Linked DNA regions of Homo sapiens. The protein of the gene in region 2 purifies or fractionates together with the protein of the main gene of each other region. This does not show direct contact. Each region holds a gene or a part of one and is shown on either strand. Other genes may lie near its edges.

Region 1 (3,716 bases), on a different chromosome or scaffold from region 2:
CAGGGATTAGTATATTTCTCTCTGCATCTGTTCCCTGCAATACCAGGTCCAAAGGAGGGCTCAATGCAAGTCTATTTTCATTTGCTGTCCTAGTAGGTATCTTGTACTATATGGCAGAGGACAGTACGTTTTGCATATATTCACCAACAGCTTTATTATGTATTGTATATGCTTCATATTAAGACTAATAACTTAGATTTCTTTCCCCCTGCTTCATCCCAAGAGACTTTAGTGTTCTCTAAGTATCGTAATTTTTGCTTTCTAAAAACTCATATATTATTAAGCATGAGCTTTAAAGTATGGCTTAAACTTCAGTTGTAACGAATCTCATAAAATGCTAGCATGCTGAACTTTGACTCTACAGTCAGCTCACTATTGAGTTAGTCTTTCCACTAAAGACAGTTATCTAGTGGGTTTTACCTTGTTTTAGAGTAACTTAGGAAGCAGGGACAGTCATGCCCTAAAGTGAAACCAGTAGAAAACTGGCCTGTTTCATTTATTACCAACATGAGTTTGATTATACTACTGTGACTCTAGCTTCTGAAACAGCAGTTGCTCAAAGTGGGAAGCCTTTTAAGTGATTTCATTCCATTTGGATATTCTCAGAATGATAGAGTTGTTTGCCTTTTCGAACTTGTTTTCACAAAGGTATTTAGGTAGAACTTTCTAACATCACTTACTAGTAATCAGGAAGGTCATTTGCCACATAAAAGGCAATACCTTATTTTATTCCCTGTAATACTTTGTGAGTGTTGGCATTTATTTTTTTTTTTTATTTTTATTGTTGAGACAGGGTCTTGCTCTGTCGCCCTGGCTGGAGTACAGTGGCATGATCACAGCTCACTGCAGCCTTGACCTGCCAGGCTCAGGTGATCCTACCACATCAGGCCCCCTGAATAACTGGGAATACAGGCATGCGCCACCATGCCTGGCTAATTTTTAAATTTTTTTGTGGGCCGGGTGCGGTGGCTCATGCCTGTAAACCCCAGCACCTTGAGAGGCCGAGGCAGGCGGATCACGAGGTCAAGAGATTGAGACCATCCTAGCTAACATGTTGAAACCCTGTCTCTACTAAAAGTGCAAAAATTAGCCAGGTGTGCTGGCATGCGCCTGTAGTCCCAACTACTTGAGAGGCTGAGGCAGGAGAATCGCTTGAACCCAGGAGGCGGAGGTTGCAGTGAGCCAAGATGGCGCCACTACACTCCAGCCTGGCAACAGACAGAGACTCAGTCTAAAGAAAAAAAAAAAATTGTGGAGACAGATGGAGTGTCACTATGTTGCCCAGGCTAGTGTCACACTCCTGGGCTCAAGCAATCCTCCGCCTTGGCCTCCCAAAGCACTGGGATTTACAGGCATGAGCCACTGCGGTCAGCCTGATGCTTGGCATTTAAATGCCCACAGTTCAGCAGCAAGTGGTGAAGAATGGTGGTAATTCCAGTGATTTGAGTAGCTGAGCCATTCTTCTATTAAGTAACTTTGGATAAAACATCATTTCACTCTCTTAGAGAAAGTTATCATCTGTTATCCTTACAGTCAGGTAGTGGCTGTTATGGGATAAGTGTCTGTTTTTGAAAATGATCAAACTAAGACATACTTTCTGGATTCTGCAGTCACATGTGACTTAGGAGCCAAACCTTTTATCTGAAAACAAAATGAAGCCACAAAACCCAGACCTTTTGATAAGATAGCATAAAACCTTCTTGAGTTACTTTTAATCTCATGGGATCAGTCAGGCTATAGATTTTTGGTGGTTATTTCTTTACCCAATTTATTTTTCTATTCTCTAGAATAATAAATTTGTTGAAATGCCCTTTGCTCTCACTTGTCTGCTCTTACAGCTTTCCAATTGTAGCTTCCTGTTGTACCACCACACCCCAACTCCTTACCTCTTGTCTCTTTGGCAGTGTAGACTTCTCTCTGTCATAGGTCATAGCCCTGATCACCCTATAATCGTCTGTTTGCCTGTTTCCCTATTAGACTGTGACATCCTGGAGGGTAGGGGTTACATCTTTTGTTTTTTTTAAGACAGAGTCTCGCTCTGTCGCCAGGCTGGAGTGCAGTGGCACCATCTCAGCTCTCTGCAACCTCCGACTTCCTGGTTCAAGCGATTCTCCTGCCTCAGCCTCCCAAGTAGCTGGGATTACAGGCATGCGCCACCATGCCCAGCTAATTTTTGTATTTTTAGTAGAGATGGAGTTTCACCATGTTGGCTAGGGTGGTCTCGATCTCCTGACCTCGTGATCCGCTCGCCTCAGCCTCCCAAAGGGCTGGGATTACAGATGTGAGCCACCGTGCCCCGCCAAATTTTTGTATTTTTAGTAGAGATAGGGTTTCACCATGTTTGCCAGGCTAGTCTCGAACTCCTGACCTCAAGTGATCAGGGGTTACAACTTTTAACACCATATCCTCATTGTGCCCCTAAGTACTCCAAACCTAGGATTTCAGTTTATTGTTCTTTACACCCTAACTCTATCATTTAGCCCATGCCTAGTACATGGTAGGTGTTCTAAATAAACATTTGCTAATTGAAAGAATGTTGCCTTAATCCTAAAACTTTTATACTTTCAGACCCGTAAGAAACAGAAGGAAGATGTGGAAGTTGTAGGAGGCAGTGATGGAGAAGGAGCCATTGGGCTTAGCAGTGATCCCAAGAGCCGGGAACAAATGATCAATGATCGGATTGGTTATAAACCCCAACCCAAGCCCAATAATCGTTCATCTCAATTTGGAAGTCTTGAATTTTAGAGATGGATTATCTTGCATGCCAGAGCGCTGGAATGGAATAAAATGATGGCAGAAGTACAAACCAGATTTAGAGAATTGAGTGCTTGCAGTCAAGCAGAATGTACCTCCTGCAGAGACAAATCTTCTGCATGAGATTACTGATGCTTCACTTGCACTCTAAGCTGGAATCCAAACTCTGGTTTGTCTCTTGAAAATTTGACTCTATAAAACTGATCTGATTTTCTGTTTTTAAAAATAAATATATTTTTGGAAAAATGTGAGGCATCCTTAATGAAGTATAACAGTACTGTTAATTCCCAGACTTTAAAAGATAATTGCTACAAGATTAACATCATTCTTTCCATCTTTATTAAAAGACCCTAAGCACAGGACACTCTAGTTGATCCCTGCCACTTTCACTTAACCCATCTATTCAATAAGTATTTATTGAGTGTCTACCATGTGCCACTCAACAAAGATCCCTGCCCTTGTAGAAATTAAATTCTAGTGGATATTGTGTAAATCTGAAGAAATTGTAGGTACCCGATCTCTTTACAGAATGGCTTTGTAACTAGTTTGGGTATAATGTTGGGAGGACAGGCAATGGAGGAAAGAGGAATGCTTCTAACAGTTTTGCCATTATTCCAACTTTCCTTCCTTTCTCAACTTGCCTAAGTGTTTTTCCCAGAAAGAACCAGAGAGGCAGCTCGGAGGATAATTTTGAATCATGCCCTATTGTTCTGGGCATTAAAAAAAAATTTTTTTTAAAAATTTTTATTGTTTTATGTAGAGACAGGCATCTGTGTTGCCCAAGCTGGGCTTGAGCTCCTGACATTAAGCAGTCCTCTCAAAGTGCTGGGATTACTGTGCCTGGCCTGTTTTCACTAATTCAACACAGGGAATCACCAGCTGTGATCATAAGAGCCTCTTGAATCATCAGTTCTACGGAGACTCTTAGCAGGACTTTAGCCTTTTTGGGGTAGTTTAAGTCT
Region 2 (3,860 bases):
TGCAGCTGCCTTATCAGATGGGGCACACAGGCTTGCACAGTGAGCATCTCGGCAGCAGCCTTGGTAGACTGCAGACCAGAGACTCGTCCCCCACTTTCCAGAGTTGCTAAATTCCAATGTTTTGAGAAACACAAGAGAAAGGGTTGGTGGGGGTCCTGGAAAAATGATTTAGTGAGTAGGGGTTAAGCCGTATGTTGTTTCAGTTAGAAAAATGAAAAGTTAAAGGCGAAAGATTTGCACGATCTGAAGAGAAACCAGAATGACGAGTTAATGGCACATGTTTACATACGTAACAAACCTGCATGCTGTGCACATGTACCCTAAAACTTAAAGTATAATAATAATAATAAGAAAAATGAAAAGTTACATTTCTTATATCTGAGCATTGTCTCATTAATATGAAGTAGTCATAAGCACCTTGTGTTTTGGGGATTTACCTTACAAAACACTCACAATATCTTTCCTCATTATCTGGTCACCAAATTAATTTATTCATCATTCATATATCCATTCATCCGATATTGGAGAATCTGCTACAGTCATAGTGTAGAGGTGTACAATGGTGACTAAGATGTAGTTCCACGTTCTTACAATTCTTACTAGTGACGTGGATAGGAGATAAGGAACCGCAGTGAAAAGGATATTGACTGGGCACAAAAAGTTTGGGGTTTTAATCCTATTTTTGTCCTTCAACTGCTGGGCAACTTTGGGCCAACTACACAACCTTTCTTGGCTTCCCTTTCTTCATTTGTAAAATTGGACTAAATTATCTTTAATTTCTTACTAACTTCTAAAATACTTTACTGAAGAAAAGAGACATACACATCTGATGTAAATGCAAGTATGTGTGTGTGTGTGTGTGTGTGTGTGTTTAATGGGGGCATAGCTGGCTCCTTTATTAGGCTTTGGTTTTTCTTCATGTATCTGATTTCCAGAAATGAGAGTGAAAATACATTTTATTTTGCTCCCACGTGTTTACTAATCTAAGATTTCATGCTGTGAGGAATTAAATAAAAAATGTTTTTGAGCCTTGGCTGAAGGAGAAGAAAGACAATGATTATGATGTCAAAATTATGTCAAAAGCAGATGGTTCTACTGTCCCTGAGTCTAGGATTGATGCGGAAACCCAAAGGTAAATGAGAGCCTTGGAGAAAAAGAGACTTACAAGGATATTATGCACTTGGGGTAATAGGTTTATTATCTCTATATACAAGTAAGCATTTATTGATGTTTGTCAAAAATAAGAGACAAGATAACAAAAACTATTTTAGCATGAAAACGAGATAGCTGCAATAGACTAATACTGAGCTTAAAGACTCCAAAAAGAGCACAGAACCTGAAATGACAGTTTTCAGGTTGTATAGTTATCCAGACAATGAAGTCAACTATACAAGGCAAGCAACACATGACAATAAAACACCATCAACAGTTTCCCACTGGAGGATGGAGGGAGGCTTGCTGGGGCCTGGGGCCACTAGTGGGAAAAGATATTAAAATCTCATAAATCCTCCGTATCTTTTTTCCATTTCAGGAACTTCTTTGGAGTAACTTTCGCCTTCTTCGTCGGAGGGCAGAGCCTCGGCAAAGCGCTTCAGGAAACCTCCATACCGTTTCTGGTAGTCCATCCACCACTCTGGGCGACCTACTCTTCTCATGAAGCCCCCATATCGCTTCTGCAGCTCTTTGGCTTCATCTTCCAGTTGGGGGCTTCTCTTTAAGCCTCTCATGAAGCCCCCATATCTCTTGCTCACTTCTTCCTCATTATCACTGCCATCCTGGTGGTGGCTACGCTCTCGGTTGTCCCCTGTTTCCAGAAGCTCTTTTAGCAGGTCTGAGGAATTGGCCAGCGAGTCGTCCTCCTCTGCATCCTTCTTCATGAAGCCCCCATACCGCTTGGCGAGGATCTCACTTCCATTGGCCTCTTCTTCTGGCTCCATGGGATAAAGCTCATCCATTTTCTTCATGAAGCCTCCATACCTTTTCATGAAGCCCCCATACCTTTTGGCTAGCAAATGGCTTTCTTCCGGTTTGCTATTTTCTCTGAGGGTGCTGGTGCCATCTTGAGGAAGCTCTGGTTTGGACAGCTGCAGGAGCTCCTTGCAGGTTTCCCAAATTTTCAGAGAAGGCAGTTTACCTTCACATTCCATTACGCAAGCCTGGGAAAACAATTTGATGTAATGATAAAAAGAAGCTTCTGTGATTTCATTAAGCAAATGAACTTTTGTGGACCAAAATATGCTTGCTTTGACATCATAACTTCCTTATTATAATAAGGTCATCTCCAATTTCTTATCACGACTTTTCATAAGGCTGAGCATGCAAATGAAACAAATAAAATTTGGAAAGGTGAAAGTGGAGGGGTTCACTGAATCCAGTTAGGAATCTGCCTTTGGATTTTAAACCCATAGAAATTTTAAAGAATTTAAAAAAAAATTTTCCATGCAGTTTTAACTTAGATTGACTGCTTTCACAATCTAATTTCACTGGATAATTTTCCACTTCTGATATAATTTTGTTTGAGATTTTTCTAACCAAAAAGGAGAAATTTTTATTTACCTAATCAGGGATATTTCCTCAAAATTCCTTTTATCTTCTTGTCTTAGAGATAAAATCAATATTAATAACCTAAGGGTCATTTGCTTTCTTGTGTTAATATTTTACCTAAAATGGTATCGAGTATTCCTGCAAATACTTTCAATCTTCAAAGAAAAACAACAATTTAAAAAAAGTTTATAAACACATCCTAAAAACTCAATTTAAATCTGATGAATTATTTGCATTCTTATTAATTTGTTAATTTGTTGTAAGTACAGATCTTTTGTTTTTTTCCTTTTTTCTTTGCTGGATACAACAGACTTTATTATTTTGAACAAAATGTCTATAATGATGAGATCAGATATAAAATTATACAAATGCAAGTGCACAAATTATTCATGTTTATTTTCTTCACATTTAGTCACTGTTGTACAGAAAAAGTATTTTTCAATGGAAATCATGGTGTTTGGTAAAATAGGAATCATCAGCATACATTCTTTCCTTTTTCTTATATAAATATTAAATATAAAATCATTGTAAGTCTATACATTCGAATGATCTTAAGTTTTTTTCTATTTAACACATCACTTGGGTATGATAAAGAGAGTACTAATATGTGAACATTTACAAAACATGCATGATATTTCTTAGCATTTCAGGAGTTTTTTACAGCCCTCTGAAGTCTTTCTTGGTATTATTAAAAATATACTGGTATATTAAGTGATGTTAAATACACATATATTATTTTCACAATGAAAGAAAGCATTTTATTAGTGCAACAAAATCTTGAAGGCACGTATTTAGTAAGCTCTTAATGAGTATTTAAGCTTCGTGTCTGAGAAGATTAAATATATAACTACGTAAGAATCTAAAGATGATCCATTAATAATTAAAATGTCTTATTTTATTCCTGACATATGATGAACAAATAAAAACACCATTAGAAGCTTAAGATATTTAAGGAGCAATAATATTTCCATTCTAAAGTTGTATCTAAGTGATCTTGTTGTTAAAAATTAATGTTGAATGTTTTGCATACTAATACCAAAAGATTTTTAAATGTATGTGATGTGAGATTCCTTCAAAACCAAATAGTAACAAATATCAGAATAATGCACTCGTACTAAGGTAGCGATGTTAACTGATGGCTCCTATAACCATGTATGCATGTTTTGTGGTATTTACCACACTTTGTGTGGTATGGTCAAGATCACATTAGATGGGAAATTCTATCTGGACATCAGCCATAGCACGCCTGCTCATCTCTGCATCCACCACAGTACCAATCATAAGTGTCTTTCTCATGGTAGAAGCTCAGTAAATAT

Evidence for each region.
Region 1: the proteins of PENK (region 2) and CDC26 purify together in Homo sapiens (affinity purification with mass spectrometry; 3 studies listed by BioGRID and IntAct, with this or other methods). This does not show direct contact.

What each region holds. Positions count from the first base shown.
Region 1 is NC_000009.12:113,266,292-113,270,007, reverse strand, and holds the end of CDC26 (anaphase-promoting complex subunit CDC26), read left to right. Parts: intron 1-2,568; coding exon 2,569-2,745; 3' UTR 2,746-3,016; downstream 3,017-3,716. UniProt on the Homo sapiens protein: Component of the anaphase promoting complex/cyclosome (APC/C), a cell cycle-regulated E3 ubiquitin ligase that controls progression through mitosis and the G1 phase of the cell cycle.
Region 2 is NC_000008.11:56,439,782-56,443,641, forward strand, and holds the end of PENK (proenkephalin-A preproprotein), read right to left. Parts: intron 2,157-3,860; coding exon 1,491-2,156; 3' UTR 1,176-1,490; downstream 1-1,175.